2 separate regions of the Homo sapiens genome follow, and region 1 is linked to region 2. The links come from fine-mapping of genetic effects on gene expression. Tissue or cell type: cerebellar hemisphere. Region 2 holds a variant in brackets; the other region holds the start of a gene. All regions are shown on one strand. Distances are from middle to middle.

Evidence for each region. PIP is the estimated chance that this variant, and not a neighbour inherited with it, causes the effect.
Region 1: it holds the start of MAILR, and the variant in region 2 is fine-mapped to the expression of MAILR in cerebellar hemisphere (GTEx, PIP above 0.99).

The regions. Positions count from the first base shown.
Region 1 is chr8:102,859,699-102,867,798 of GRCh38, reverse strand. It overlaps MAILR (macrophage interferon regulatory lncRNA), which reads right to left and starts at 3,528. Exons shown (of 3, transcript NR_126339.1): 1 at 3,176-3,528. It overlaps AZIN1 (antizyme inhibitor 1), which reads left to right and starts at 3,636. Exons shown (of 12, transcript NM_148174.4): 1 at 3,636-3,992. RefSeq lists enhancers at 2,558-3,290, 4,759-5,492 and silencers at 3,170-3,519, 4,180-4,409.
Region 2 is chr8:102,777,956-102,786,055 of GRCh38, reverse strand. It overlaps LOC124901999 (a long non-coding RNA gene), which reads left to right. Exons shown (of 2, transcript XR_007061040.1): 2 at 6,141-8,100. Among named protein-coding and RNA genes, the nearest start is that of GASAL1, 25 kb to the left of the region's middle. RefSeq lists enhancers at 2,807-3,307, 3,986-4,485. The variant TG/G (reference allele first, on the strand shown) is at 4,351.

The sequences.
Region 1 (8,100 bases), 82 kb before region 2:
GTCATTTTCTTCGGCCTCTTGGTCTTCTCTGCGGCTGTCTTTTATCTCTGGCATTCTCTAGATCCTGTGCTTATACTCTTTTCTTCTATACCTCAATAATTCCTTAATTATCATGTCTGTAGGAAAGGCTCCCAAATTCACACCCAAAGGGTTCTAGATCTCCCCATTTTCAGAGGCCTCTGGACCATTTTTACCTGGCTATTTCTTCAACAGCTAAAACTCTGTATCACAGCAGCCTCAGGCCTGGTGTGATGGCTCATGCCTATAATCCCAGCATTTTGCGAGGCCTAAGTATGTGGATCACTTGAGTCCAGGAGGTCAAAACCAACCTGGGCAACATGGCAAGACCTGTCTTCACAAAAAATTAGCCAGGCATGGTGGTGCACCAGTAGTTCCAGCTACTCAGAGGCTGAGGTGGGATGATCACTTGGTCCCAGGAGGTGGAGGTTGCAGTGAGACGAGACTATGCCTCTCCACTTCAGCCTGAGCAACAGAGTGACACACTGTCACATACACACACAAAAGGCAAAAAAACCTAGCCTCATCTTACTCCCTCTTTTTTTTTTTTTTTTTTTTTTTTTGAGATGGAGTCTCGCTCTGTCGCCCAGGCTGGAGTGCAGTGGCACCATCTCGGCTCACTGCAAGCTACGCCTCCCAGGTTCATGCCATTCTCCTGCCTCAGCCTCCCAAGTAGCTGGGACTACAGGGCACATGCCACCATGCCCAGCTAATTTTTGTATTTTTAGTAGAGACGGGGTTTCGTCATGTTGGCCAGGGTGGTCTTGATCTCTTGACTTCGTGACCCGCCTGCCTCAGCCTCCCAAAGTGCTGGGATTACAGGCGTGAGCCACTGCTCCTGGCAGGGTCCTTCTATTTCTATCTCTGTTTATGGCTCCAGAATTCTCCCTGTTGATAAGCTTAATATCCCCAAATCACTTGACACCTTCTCATCTCCTTTGAAAGTCAAGATTATCTCTACTCTCTCTGTGCGTTTTCCCTCCCATCCATTCTGAATCCCCTTAGTACTTTCATTATTATTATTATTATTTGAGACAAAGTACATCTCTGTTGCACAGGCTGGAGTGCAGTGGTGCGATCTCAGCTCACTGCAACCTCTGCCTCCCGGGTTCAAGCAATTCTCCTGCCACCGCCTCCCAAGTAGCTGGGACTACATGCGTGTACCAGCACGCCTGGTTAATTTTTGTAGTTTTAGCAGAGACAGGGTTTTGCTATGTTGGGCAGACTGGTTTCAAACTACTGGCCTCAAGTGATCCGTCCGCCTCAGCCTCCCAAAGTGCTAGGCCACCACACCATCACTAGGCCACCAAGTGAGCAACCACGCCCGGCCCCCTTAGTACTAAAATAAATAAATAAGTAAACCAAAAGACCCCAGAAAACTGCTGTAAGAGTTTCCTTCACTTCCAAACTTTCTACCTCTTTTCAATCCCACCCACTGGTGCTGGAGTAATCTTTTAAAAAACATATTTTTGAGCATATCATGTTCCTGTTTATATGGTTCCAGAATAAAGTCCAAGTTCCAATTTTTTGTTTTGTTTTTTTTTTTTTTTTTGAGACGCAGTTTCACTCTTGTTGCCCAGACTGGAGAGTGCAATGGTGTGATCTCGGCTCACTGCAACTTCCGCCTCCCAGGTTCTAGAGATTCTCCTGCCTCAGCTTCCTGAGTAGCTGGATTACAGCCATGTGCCACCATGCCCAGCTAATTTTGTAGTTTTAGTAGAGCCGGGTTTTCTCCATGTTGGTCAGGCTGGTCTCGAATTCCCGACCTCAGGTAATCCGCCCTCCTCGGCCTCCCAAAGTGCTGGGAATACAGGTGTAAGCCACTGCGCCCAGCCTCCAATGTCTTCTTGATGTCACCCTAATCTACCGTTTCAATCTCATTTGCAACCATGCCCCTATGCTGGAACCAGAAAGGCTATTCACAATTCTCTAAACCCACCCACTTCTGTGCCTTCTCTCATCCGTTTCCCTTGCCTGGAACACTGGAACATCTACTCTCAAAATCACCAAACAGGCGAGTTTGGTGAAAAAGGAAGCACCTTTGTCTAGAAAGGCTTTTCTCAAAATCACTCTTTACCTTTCCCCAGCAGCCTTTCTCTCACTTAGCTGCAATCATCTCTTCCCTCCACTTGGTCCTTGCAGCATTTTATTTGTATCAGCCAACAATTTATTTTGTATTGCTGTCTTATTTCCCCTGCTAGATTGTAAGCAAGGTTTCAAATATTGTATTCATCTCTAGTTTTTCTTCCTCCACCAGAGAGGGTCTAGTGAATGGCTGTGTTTTCAAATGTTCTGAATAGAACAGAACTTTGAAGAAATAAAAGACAGAGCCAAGATATAGCCGAGCAAAATAAGGAAAAACAAAATCAGGAATGCGTCCACAGCTCCTGATTCTACCGAATACTCTCTCATACAGCCTCGCAAGATACCCTGCTTTTCCACACAGGAAGGTCGCTTTCTTCCTTTCACATTTGATGATTTATTAATCAACCACAGTGCTGCTCAAAGTACACAGAGGGTTCGGAAGAATGAAAGGGAAAAAAGTCAGGGTCTTAATATCAAAGATCTTAACTTCAGAGGGGTGTGTCAACACATATTCCATTTGTGCTATGTGTTGCGAAGCGTAGCAGCACGAGAGAACTCGGGGTCTCTGATCATGATCATTAGTGCTGAGGCATCTAAAAAAGATGAAAATAAATTAAAAGCTATGTAGGTAATCTTAGAACCCCTAGTAAAAAAAAGTCTGTTGTGGAGTAGAAAAATTAAAACGACCGCGAAAATGAGACCTAGGGGATTGAAGTAATGTGCGCTTGTAACATCAGTAATCCCCTCTCCAACGCGGGTCCTGCTTGGGACTGACTCCACCAATCCTTTTAAAAATGAAGACATAAAAGCCATATTCCTTTAAAAAATTTCCACTGCACCGTATTGCAACGTTCGAGCACTGAGGACATTTTCACGTGGTCACAACCCTTTTTAACACCCGGACACTGGGCCGGTCCTTTCTGGCCACGAGGAACTCGCTTCCCTAAAGGAGTACCGCATCACCGAGGGCGGGCGCCTCAGCCCGGGAGGACACTCCCCAGGGTAAACTACAGGCCTCACAAAGCGGAGGGAGCTGGACGCGAAGGCTCGGCAGCGGCGCCGACAGGCTTACCCCAGGCCCACTCTAGGCCGCACAGGGTTCGCGCCACCTCCGGCCCAGGACAGCTCTCAGACGCTGCCAGCGTGGAGCTCGACCCGGCTCACAATGCGCTGGGCCCCGCAGCGTGAGCGCAGGCGCCCGAGAGGCGGCGGGGGTCGGGCGGACGGCGCGCTCCAGCCGAGCCGCCTCCCTCTCTCGGCCCACACCCGCGCGGCCGCCCTTCGCCTGCCGGGGAGCTGCGGGTGGCTGGAGGGCGGGAAGCGACCGGCCAGTCTGCACCTGCATGACCCGGTCGCGCGCCGACCCCTCCCCTCTCTCTCCCGGGCTCAGTCCTCCTTCCTCTTCCGTCCCCCTCCCTTTTCTCCGGGCTGCAACCGGGTTCCGCCCCGCTCGCGCGGCTGCCCGGCCAGCTGTGATGTCACCAGGCCACGCCCCCTAATATAAATACTGGCGTCGCTGGCGCCGCCTTCTCACACTTTCAGGCTCTGATCGCGGCCGCAGTTTTTCCTTTTTTCTTCTGCCGTCGCCTTCTCTGCCTCTTCTCATCCTTTCTCGCTCTGCTGCTCTGCAGTGTGACGAGTCCGAATCCTCTTCCCACCCAGCCCGCGCCTTTCTTCTTTTGCCTGCGCTGTTCTATTTCTCCTTCGGCCGCCGCCGCCACTGCTGCACACAGCTGGTGTCGGTGCCGCGCTTTTACCCCCAAGTCGTTCCCGCAGCCTATGGCCCAGGCCGCCTTGGGTATTTCTGCTCAAGGTAACCACATCCCTCTTTAAAAATTCCGCCGAAAAAGAGAAGACGCTTTACCCGACTCTTTGGGCCGTTATCTCACGTGAGTACCGAGCCGAGGAGCGCGGGAGGGGCCAGGACGCGGGGCTGGCCTTGGGGGGCGGCTGGGGGGCTCCGGCTGGGCCCCGCCGCCCTTAAGACGTCCCCGCAGCGCCCCGCGGCCGGCCGCCTCGAACATGGCGGCGGCGGCTGTCTGTGCCCCCGGCGGCGGCGGCGGCGGCGGGGCTGGGCGGCGGGCCGCGCCTCAGGACCTTCGGGCGGCTGCTGGACGCTTGGCGGAGCCGGAGCCGCAGCAGTTGGGGCGAGGGGGCGTGTGCCAGTGGGGGAGCGCGCGGGGGTCTCGCCGCCGGGGGTCGCCGTCCCCTCCTGGCGGCGTGCGGCCCCCACCCCTCTCCCGTGGTGCATTGCTGTTTCCGGGGAGGGGGCCCGGCCGCAGCCCTGAGGGGCCGGGGTCCCGCAGCCCCTACTCCGCGGTGCGCCGCCGCCACCTTTGCCTCCCGAAGCCCGGCGGGCGGGCGGCGCTGTGGGCTGCAACGGCTGGGGTCCTGGTTATGAATGGAGCGGGGCGGGCCCCGCGCCGGCCTCTGGTGACAGCTGCGGAGGAAGTCGGATTCCTGGGGGGCGCGGGGAGCGCGGTCCCCCTCTGGTGGAGGAAAGTTGACGCCACTTGGGGCCTGGCGGCGGGGAAGCCCCGGTGTCAGGTAGCCAGCGAGAGGCTTTTGGCCCCTTCTGGAAGCCTCGAGGCTGCTGCTCCGCCCCTGCGGCGCTCCTGATTGGGTCAAGTCGCCTTCACTCACCCCAGTCACCTCCTGGAGCCTGAGGATTAGTCACCATGGCTTCGTTTTTCCGTCCGCGCCATGGTTCCTAGGCAGAAAGAGGGAGATTGGTAGACGGGTGGCTTATCAACTACTGTCTTGACTGCCAACAGTTGGTGGTGGTAACATGTTCTAACCCTTACACGGTATCCTGAATGTGTGTTTCGTAGACAAAGCTGCTGGTTCAGAAACCCGAAACAGTCGGGGACACAGTTTACCGCCTCATGTTTCAGCACATTTAACTGAATTTTGTGGTGGCATCTTGGTTATATTAGTTCTGTGTCCCGTCGTGTTTCTATCGTGAATTCCCAGACTGGGTGGGAATCTAAGGACTCAAAGGAGGGGGAATTGCCTTGTGCTCAGCGAAGGTTGATGTAGAGGTGCATCAAAGCACAAAGTAGAAGTACATCAAAGCACATCAAATACAGCAAGGGTTGGCAGAAACATGGCTCATGATTGTCTAGAAAGGCCCTCATAATTCATTAATTTCTTTTACATATACGAGAGCGTGCAGATGCTGATCATGATTAGAAATAAGCCCCAAGGAGTTTAGGAAAGACTCCAAAAGAAAATGATTATCGGTGGTGATAAGTGAGGTCGAGTAGTCAGTGCCTTTCTCCCCCAAGGTTTTATCACATACGTTTTCAAACAGAAGGTGAAAAAGAGTTATACTTCCACCTAGATTCTGTAATTAACATTTTACCTTATTTGTCGATGCATTTCAAAGTAAAGTTGGAGACCCCTCCAACTTTAGTATGTGCATATTAAATAGAGCTCAGTACCGCTTACTATTTTTTAAATCTTAGAGGGTAAAATTCACATCAGTATAAACCCACAAGTCTTAAGTATGCAATTTGATGAACGTTGACAAAAATACAGCTGTGTAACCTAAACCTTTTGTCAAGATGTAGAACATCGCCATCACCCTCAAAAGTTTTTTCTTGTCCTTTCAAATCGTCTTCCAGTCACCACAGAGCCAACCACGATCTTGGTTTTTTTTTTTTGGAGTCTAGCTCTGTCGCCCAGGCTGGAGTGCAGTGGCACAATCTCGGCTTACTGCAACCTCCGCTTCCCAGGTTCAAGCGATTCTCCTTCCTCAGCCTCCCGAGCAGCTGGGATTACAGGCGCCCACCACGCCCAGCTAATTTTTGTATTTTTAGTAGAAAAGGGGTTTCACTGTTGGTCAGGCTGGTCTGGAACTCCTGACCTCATGATCCGCCCATCTCGGCCTCCCAGAGTGCTGGGATTACAAGCGTGAGCCACTGCGCCCGGCTGATCTTGATTTTTTTTTTTAAACCCATAGATTATTTTCGTCTATTCCAGACTTTCCACATGAATGGAATCATACAGTATGCATTCTTTGGTATAAAAGGCTTCTTTTAACTCAGCACATTTTTAATATTCATCCCTGTTGTCTTTATCTGTAGATTATCAGTAGATTATTTGTGTTGCTGAGTAGTAGCCCATTAGGTGACTGTCCCTTGGTTGTTTTTTTTAAAAATAAACTTTATTAGGCCGGGCGCGGTGGCTCAAGCCTGTAATCCCAGCACTTTGGGAGGCTGAGGCGGGTGGATTGCCTGAGGTCAGGAGACCAGCCTGGCTAACATGCTGAAACTCCATCTCTACTAAAAATACAAAAATTAGCCGGGCGTGGTGGCTGGCTCCTGTAATCCCAGCTCCTCGGGAGGCTGAGTCAGGAGAATCGCTTGAACTGGGGAGGCAGAGGTTGCAGTGAGCCGAGATCTCACCAGGGCACTCCAGCCTGGGGGACAAGAGCAGCGGGACTTCATCTCAAAAAATAATAATAATAATGAAAAATAAACTTTATTTTGGAGTATCTTAGTTGCGCAGCAAAGTCACAAAGATACAGTTTCTTCATACTTCCCACCCAGTTATTAGTAACATCTTACGTTATTACAGTACATTTGTTAAAACTAAGAAACTGACTTTGGCACTATGAAACGTTCGAGACTTTTATTTGGATTTCGCCAATTTTTCTTTAATGTCTTTTTCTGTTCCAGAATCCAAGTTACCACATTGTATTTAGTTGTCATGTCTTCCCAGTTTTCTTTGGTTTGTGACAGTTTCTCAGTCTTCCTTTGTTTTTCATTACCATCACAGTCTAGAAAAGTGCTGCCAGATATCTGGTAGAATACTCCCCTCCCCTAAACTTGGGGTTTACCTGATGTTTTTCTCATGATTAGACTGGGGTTTGGAGTTTTTACAAAGAATACCACAGAACGATTTTAAAAATCATTGGTAAAGGCATTGTGTTTTCAGAGACGTACTGATAATTTTGAGATACTAAGTTTGTAATAGTTACTGTCAAAGTGATAGAAAGTTTTTGTAGTTGGGCACGGTGGTTTGCACCTGTAATCCCAGCACTTCGGAAGGCTGATGCAGGCGGATCACTTGAGCTCAGGAATTCAAGGCCAGCTTGAATTCCTATTTTATTTTTAAGAAAATAAAATAGGCCAGGCGTGGTGGCTCATGCCTGTAATCCCAGCACTTTGGGAGGTCGAGGTGGGTGGATCGCAAGGTCAGGAGTTCGAGACCAGCCTGGCCAATATGATGAAACCCCATCTCTACTAAAAATACAAAAAAATTAGCCGGGCATGGTGGCACATGCCTGTAATCCGAGCTACTCGGAAGGCTGAGGCAGGAGAATTGCTTGAATCTGAGAGGCAGAGGTTGCAGTGAGCCAAGATCGCGCCACTGCACTCCAGCCTGGGTGACAGAGCGAGACTCCGTCTCAAAAAAATAAAATAAAATAAATTACATAAAATGCTTCTTGTTTCTTACTGACCAACCGAGCCCTCTCTGTGCTATTCTCTAAGGTGTTAGAGAATTTGCAGTGTTTACATACACCATTCTAAGTGAAAATAATTTATTTTTTTCCATACTGCCTTTTCTCCGCATTTCCATTTAACAAGTCCTTCTTCATGCTTTTTTATCCTAACTGTCCGGATAAACATTCTATCTATCCTGTATGTAAGTGCTTATAAGAAGTGCTTATCTATCCTGTATGTGTTTATAAGAAGTGCTTATCCTATGCACCTTTTGGGTCTTGCTGTGTTGCCCAGGCTGGACTCAAATTCCTGGGCTCAAGCAGTCCTCCTGCCTTAACCTCCTCAGTAGTTGAGACTATAGGTGCATACTGTCACATCTGGCTCATTTTTTCTTTTCTTTTCTTTTTTTGGAGACAGGTTCTCCCTCTGTTGCCTGGGCTGGAGTACAGTGGCACAATCTCGGCTCACTGCAACCTCCGCCTCTTGAGTTCAAGCAATTCTTGTGCCTCAGGCTCCTGAGTAGCTGGGATTACAGGTGTGCACCGCC
Region 2 (8,100 bases):
TGGATTTCCCGTCTTAGTGGCGTTTTCTGAATATGTCCATCAGGAAGTTAGCTAAACTCTTTTTTTTTTTTTTTTTTGAGACAGAGTCTTGCTCTGTTGCCCAGGCTGGAGTGCAGTGGCGTGAAGCTAAACTCTTTTGAACCTACTTGTGTTTTGATCTCTCAATTTGGAATAATGAACTTTTATAAGGAGATAATCCTAGAGATGGGCAGAGGGTACTAGTCTGGAGCTCCAGGGCCTCTAGGTCTTTTGGTCCTTGAACAGGGCTCCTTAGGAGCAGGTCTGTTAACAGTCCCAGGCAACTCTCCAGCAGGAAGGTGGGATCCCTCCCTGTCTGTGTCGTCTCATATCACCCAGGTACAGCTGCACATGAGGGAGGGATGTCGAAGCTGCTGGGGTTCATTTTGTTTTGTTTGTTTGTTTGTTTTTAGACAGGGTGTTCTGTCACCCAGGCTGGAGTGCAGTGGCGAGATCTCAGTTCATTGCAACCTCCACTTCCTGGGCTCAGGTGATCCTCCCACCTCAGCCTCCCACGTAGCTGGGACTACAGGTGTGTGCCACCATGCCCAGCTACTTTTTGTATTCTTTGTAGAGACGGGGTTTTGCCATGTTGCCAGGCTTGTCTCAAACTCCTGGTCTCAAGCAATCCTCCTGCCTCAGCCTCCCAAAGTGCTGGTATTACAGGCGTGAGCTGCTGTGCCCAGCCAAAGCTACTGTTTCAACTGCTGGAGAAGAGGACATTTAGCCAGTGGTGGCATCATCCATGCACGGACTGGAAGACTTCTCCACTGTGGGAAGAGAGGTCTCAATATGTCATGTGATCCTCAATACACTCTCTGCTCCTGTTGGCAGGCAGTGAGGGGGGTTTTGCAGGAGACTTAGGGGGGTAGCAAATGCTGGCAGGACAGCAAGGGCCTGGTGACTCCCTGGCAGCATCAGCAGCACTCATGGACTTGTTGGAAATGCGGAATCTCAGACCCGACCCAGACTTAGGGAATCTGTCTGTCGTAAGCAGATTCCAGGTGATTTGGGTACAAAGCAGAGGTTGAGGAGCACTCAGCTAGAACAAGGCCCATTGCCTGGCATTGATTTAACGGACTTGTGTTGAATTAGTTAACAGAGCTGAACTGACCTTGCTGTTTCCGAATTTTGTTGGCTCCACTGCCCTGGAGAACCTCTCTCTGAAACATAAATCTGCCAAATGGCTTCCAAGCCTTATTAGCCCAAATGAATCCCCTCTAATGCAGTGGGTATTCTGAAAGCTGAGAGTGAAATGCGTTCCACATGCCTGATCTTTGGGGGAGCCACCTTTGGGGCTGGGGAGTGAGAACCTCCTTTCAAAGCCAGCTCTGAAGCTTGGCTCTGCATGTGTGGCCACTTATCCTGCCACACCTGAGAGGCCCTGTGTCCTGCCCCATGGGGAATGGTTGCAGTATCTCCGCCCTCACCTGTGGCTTCTCCACACCCAAAGCCTGGTAAAGAGGTGATCCTTCTCAGAATTTGCCAAAGAAAGCCAGCAGTCCATGGCTGATATCAAAAAAGCATTAGGGCTGGGTGCAATGGCTCACACTGGTAATCCCAGCACCTTGGGAGACCAGGGCAAGTGGATCACCTGAGTTCAGGAGTTCGAGACCAGCCAGGCCAACATGGCGAAACCCCGTCTCTACTAAAAATACAAAAATTAGCTGGACGTGGTGGTGCGCACCTGTAGTCCCAACTACTTGGGAAGCTGAGGCAGGAGAATCGCTTGAACCTGGAAGGCGGAGGTTGCAGTGAGCCGAGATCGTGCCACTGCACTCCAGCCTGGGCGACAGAGTGAGACTCTGTCTCAAAAAAAAAAAAAAAAAGCGTTAGATCCTGCTCTCAAAAGCCTTAAAGAAACATATCATCACACACTTAGAAAGTGGTATTAGTGAGCCTACAACATCTGTACAACAACAGCTCTTTCAAATAATATTCCTAAGAGATTGCTCATTTTTTTAAAGTGCAAAATAGAATTATAGTCCTCTCTTGGCTGGGCGTGGTGACTCACTCCTGTAATCCCAGTGCTTTGAGGGGCTGAAGTGGGAGGATTGCTAGATGCCAGGAGTTTGAGAGCAGCCTGGGCAACATAGGGAGACCCCATCTCTATAAAAACTTTAAAAATTAGCTGGGCGTGGTTGTGCATACCTGTAGTCCCAGCTACTTGGGAGGCTGAGGCAGGAGGATCACTTGAGCCTAGGAGTTAGAGGCTGCAGTAAGCTATAATCACACCACTGCACTCCAGCCTGGGTGACAGAGTGAGATCCTGGCTCAAAAAAGAAAAAAAAAAAAAAAAAAGAATTGCAGTCCTCTCTCATTTTTAAAATAAAAATATATCTATGTTCATAGAAAAAATAATGTCTAGAGGGGTATTTTCCAAATTCTGTGGTGTCAATGCGCCCCAGCCAGAGACCACCAGGACCACACGTGGAGTTGGGTTTACCAGCTTATTGCAGTTTGGAAGCACGCACACCATGGGAACCGTGGGGTGTCCCAGTAAGAGGAGCAGGAAAGGACTCATAATAAGATGTGGGCCTGGGGTAGGTAGCTGGAAGCTTGGGGATGGTGCAAGGAAGCAGATCTTTGCTCTGGATTGGATGAGATGAGTGTCTAATAGTTCTTATGGAGATGAATTGACTGAGGCTATAAATTGGTAGAAACAACAACCACACACAAAAACAAAGAAAATAGTCACCCATTAGCCAGGATAGGGGGATGGTGGGTTATTTTTGTGGTTTGGACTGTGCTCTTGTTTTTGTTTCGATCTTCACAGTCACAGTGGCCTTGGCTGGTGCTGGTGCTCTGAGACGCTGATTGTGCTCAATGGGACATCAAGCCCCAGCTGTGACAACCAGGTCAGCTGCTGGTTCTCCAGTTCTCAACTGGCGTCACCTTTGGGTGTTGAGATTAAGGGCGATTTTCATTTTCTACTTCATGTTTTTTTTGGGGAAAATAGTGTGTTACATTTGCCTTTAGAAAACAAGCAATTTCTTTTTTAGAAAAAGATTACCTATATAAGAAAATGCTGAACAGGATAAACCATGTGCCAATACAGTTAGGCAGGAGGAGCAGACAGCCCAGCACAGAGTCCCCTGAGAACATGTCACAAAAGGCCACCCAGGTCATGCAGAACAGCTCCACTCAGACGCTTTCCCAGGAGGGAGGCTGGGCGTGCCCATATTTAAGTTTAGATTGGATGGAAATTGATGTTGCTCAAGACCTCACCCCAGGGTCCAGGTGGCGAGAAGCATGGCTGGCTTGTCTACACTGGGTGGAGGCCACCTGGACACCTGCGTGGTGAGGCTCCCAGATAAGAGGCCATGGCATGGCCTGGAGCTCCGGCTCTCAGCTTTGCAGCCTATTGAAATCACCTGGCTGTTTTGAATGTCTTTCCCCAGTGCTCAGCTACCTGTACCGATCAAATAGGGATCCCTGGTGGTGGGGAGCTCATTCCCAGCATTCCTTTAGCTCCCCAGGTGATTCCTCCAGCTTTTCTTGTTCTGCCTTTACCCAGCTCCCTTATTTATTCTGCTTCTGAGTCTCTACCTCCTCTTTTCCACTCCCATCATCTTCTGGATCCTCACAGCTCTCCTCCAAATCACCTCTGTCCCTCCACACACCCAGACTGATCCATGTAAATAAAAATCAAAGTCACTGGTTCTCAACCCTGGCTGCATATTTAGAATCACCAGGGGAATTTTAAAAAACACAGTGCCTGGGCCCCACCCTCAAAGTTTCTGATGCCATTGGGCTGGGGGTGGGACCCAGGCGTTGATATTTATAAAATGTTTCCCAGGGGATTTTACTGGGCAGCCAGGATTGAGAAACACAGCTTTAGGTATTTTAACTCCCCAGCCCAGCAGGGAGTAAGTCAAGGAGCTAACCCTGTAAACTGAAGCCTAGGAGTTTTTTTGTTTTTCAGATAGGGTCTTGCTATGTTGCACAGGCTGGTCTCGAATTGGCCTCAGGGGATCCTCCCACCTCAGCCTCCTGAGTAGCTGGGCACAAAAGTTCTTTAGGGTTCCTTTAGGGGAGTGTGCCACAAAGGGGAATACTCTGTACCCCGCTTTGCCACAGAAGACTGCATAGCTCTGTCTGTTCATGTATAGGCAGCCAGGTAGAGTGGTGGGGGAAGAGTTTGACAGGTACTGCGGAAGTACATGAGCTGGTCCCTGGCAGAAGAGGAGAGGGGGAAAAAGATAGGAATTGTGTCTTGGCTGCTGTCCTGACATATTCAAGGGGAACTCTGCAGAGGACTGGCTCCTGCAGAAGCAGATGGGGGCAAGAGCCAGGAAACAGCACACATCAAGACTTGTTGGCACAGATCTC[TG/G]AGCCAAGCAGGCTGCAATGGACGCTAGTGTCCCACCCAGACCCTCTGCACGACCCAGGACCTCCATCCCCAGTAGCAGGAAGTGTGGCCTGCTAACTGCTCATAGCTGAGTCCCTCCCCAGACGCTGCCCTCAGCCGAAGGGAGCTGCCTGGTCCAAGGCCATGGGCCCCGTGCCACCTGCATACAATAATTGTTGATGAGGGGGTACACAGACCTGGCCCCTTGCATTATTTTGGGACATCCGGGCTTCTGAGCTCTCCACAGGACCAGTTGAGGTCTCTGTTGCAAATGCATCTCAGTTCAGCCTCTGCCCTACCCAATCCTGCTTCATTGACTTCCCTGCAGGCGTAGCTCTAGCTATCTCCCTAGTAAGCCCCATGTAAGTCTGCCTCAGAGCCTGTTTCCTGACCTATGAGCAAGACTCTTAAATGTATGTGGGTGAAAAATGAACAGGCCAGGAAGGTGTGTAGGGGGATTGCATTACAGCTGCTTTGTGGGTCTTATGGAACATTTGCAGGCTCAAAGGACATGGAAACAGAAAATCTGATCGTATCACTCCCCCGCTTAAAATTCATCAGTGACTCCCGGCTGCCCAGGGGATGGCTTCTGAGCTCTTCATCATGATTTGAGTGCTTTTTTGTTATCTGGCCTGACCACCACTGTGGGTACCCACTCTTCTCCCTTGCTCTCCAGGTAATCAAAACTCTCTGCAGTTTTCCATCCTCCCACCCTCCCTGAGGCTGTCTCCTACCCCTGCCTACACAAGCGCTTGATGTTCCTGGAGAGCCCTCCCCTCTTCCTCACTGGGTCACTCGCATCCCCTCATCATTGAAATCATCTGTCTACTTGTTCTCTTCTAGCTGGTACATTCAGTGAGGCCCAGGGCCAGGTCTGGTCATCTGCTCCCCCAGGGCCCAGCACAGTGGTCAGCCCCTAATGAATCTTGTAGGATAAATGAATAAATGAATGGGAAGGGTGCAGTCTTTGAAGTGCCTTCACTTTCTGGGTATGTGATCTTGTGCAAGTGACTTAACCTCTCAGCCTCATATATAAAGAGGAGAAAATAATACACCTTATAAGGCTCCTGGAAGAATGAACCAAAAGAGACGACCTTGAGAAAATGCCCACCACAGTGGCTGTTAGGGAGCAGATGCCGCCGTCATGGTGGAATCACTACAATGTAATCTGGTTTCCATCCATTGAGATCAAGATTCCCTGATGGGTTGTGAATGTGGACAGAGTGGAATTTTTATTTATAGTCAGCTCTGATGCAAAGAGAGCAGGATGTTAGATGATGCTCATGCTGACATGTAGTGATCACTCACATTAGGTGCATGACAGTGGTAAAATGTATAGGGGTGCACAATAACACCATTTTAGGTGCATTCATCTTTTTTTTTTTTTTTTTGAGATGGAGTCTCGCTCTGTCACCAGGCAACTGTTGCTCACTGCAACCTCCGCCTCCCGGGTTCAAACAATTCTCCTGAGTAGCCTCCCGAGTAGCTGGGATTACAGGCATGTGCCACCACTCCCGGCTAATTTTTTGTATTAGTAGAGACAGGGTTTCACCATGTTGGCCAGGCTGGTCTCAAACTCCCGACCTCAGGTGATCCACCCACCTTGGCCTCCCAAAGTTCTGGGATTACAGGCATGAGCCACCGCGCGGGGCCCGCATTAGTCTTTTTAAATTCTCACAAAAGCCTAGGAGCATACAGGTTAAAGCCACTCCTTTAAGGACAGAGCCAGGACTCCAGATCCAGTGGCTTCTGCCATTTTCTGTATCACCAGGTTCCAGTGACTCTGCTGTCCACTACACCCCACCACTGCAGCCCATCACTCAAGAGTGCCACAGCCTGTGGCAGGGACTGTCTTTCGGGGATGAAGTTTCCACTGCTTGAAAGCAGGTGTGTTTTCATTGATCCTCAAGAAATTAGGTAGTAATGGAGTGCCATGCTGTGTGCAGTACAATGTTGGGAACCGTGGGCTCTACTAATAGGGATGGACACCTGCCAGGTGGAACTTTGAGGGGTGGTGTTCTCAGCACTTCGCCTGCACAGCAAATGTCCAGGCCCCAACAGGATCCCACAACATGCAGCCAGCCCACCCCGAGCCAGGTGCTGTGTGGGTTGAGGAATCCCTCCCGCGATAGCTCCCCTGTGGAGGACTGGAAGGGAAGCAGTACTCACTGCGGGTCTACGGTGTGCAGAGAACTTTTGCTTGTCTTCCCAGCAGTCTTGAGTGGTGGGCGTGACTGCCCACTCCGTCTTCCAGATTTGGAAGCAGATGGAGAGCCAAGGAGCTTTGTTCTGCCCCATTTTCAGCTTGGAGCTGGGCCCCGCCTGCCCTCCCAGGACAGATGGTGTACCGCAAGGATGAAGGTGGGGTGGGGACCGGACTCTGGAGACAACTTAGACTTTCCTTGTCAACACCTGGCCTTTAGGGCATGGCGGTGGAAGACTCATTTATTCACTCATTCATTCATTCATCCGAAACTTTTTTTGTTGTGGTAAATTACACATAACATAAAATTCACCGTCTTAACCATTTTAAAGTGTGCAATTCAGTGGCATTTAGTACATTTACAATGTCGTGCAGCCATCACCACTGTCTAGTTCCAGAATATCTTCCTCCCCAGAGGAAACCCTGTATCTGTGAAGTAGTCACTCCCCATTCCCCTCTCCTCCCAGGGCCTGGCAACCACTACTTTACTTTTTGTCCCTATGGACTTGCCTGTCCTGGATATTTTATATAAGTGGAATCATACAACATGTGGCCTTCTGCATCTGGCTTCTTTTACAGCATAATTCTTGTCATAGCATGTATCAGTACTTCATTCCTTTTCATGACTAAATAATACTTCATTGTATGGAAGTACCAGATTTTGTTTGTCCATTCACTGTTTGATGGACATTTTGGGTTGTTTCCACCTTTTGGCTGTTATGAATAATGCCGCTATGAGCTTTCATGTGCAAGTTTTTGTTTGAACACTTGTTTTCCTTTCTCTTGGGTCTATATTTAGGGGTGGCATTGATGGCTTTTGTGTGAACTATACATTTAACATATGAGGAACCGCCACACTGTTTTCCAAAGTGGCTGCATCATTTTACATTCCCACCAGCAATGAGGGCTCTAATTTTTCTACATCCTCGCCAACACTTGTTATTTTTTCTTTTCTTTCTTTTTTTTGTTATGTCGCCCAGGCTGGAGTGCAGTGACTACTCACAGGTGAGATTATGGCATACTGAAGTCTTGAACTCCTGGGTTCAAGCAATCCTCCTGCCTCAGCCTCCCAAGTAGCTGGGACTGCAGGCCTGCAGCACCACACCTGGCTACTTGGTGTCTTTTTGATGATAGCCATCCTAGTAATGTGAAGTGTTATCATTGTAGTTGTTTGATACATACTTTTGACCTTTACTGTGTTCCAGGCACCACGGTAGTCACTAGGAAGATGGCAGAGAACAAAATAGACAAAGCCCTTCCCTTCTGGAAGTTCTATTCTAGTGAGAAATGCTCTAGTAGAGTGGAGTTAAGAGGCCAGGCAGCAGGGACATGAATACAACTCGCTGCAGCTGGGAAAGCCGAAAGGCGTATGCTTTAGGCTCTGCTATTTCTCTTCATCCTGGAAGAATGGAGCAGAGTTTACAAACTCAAAGTCGATGTACAGGACACGGCCAGAGTGATGAGTGTGCACGCAGCATGTGTGCATGGTTGGATTGGAGGGCGCCAGCCTTGCCTCAAGGGCAGATGC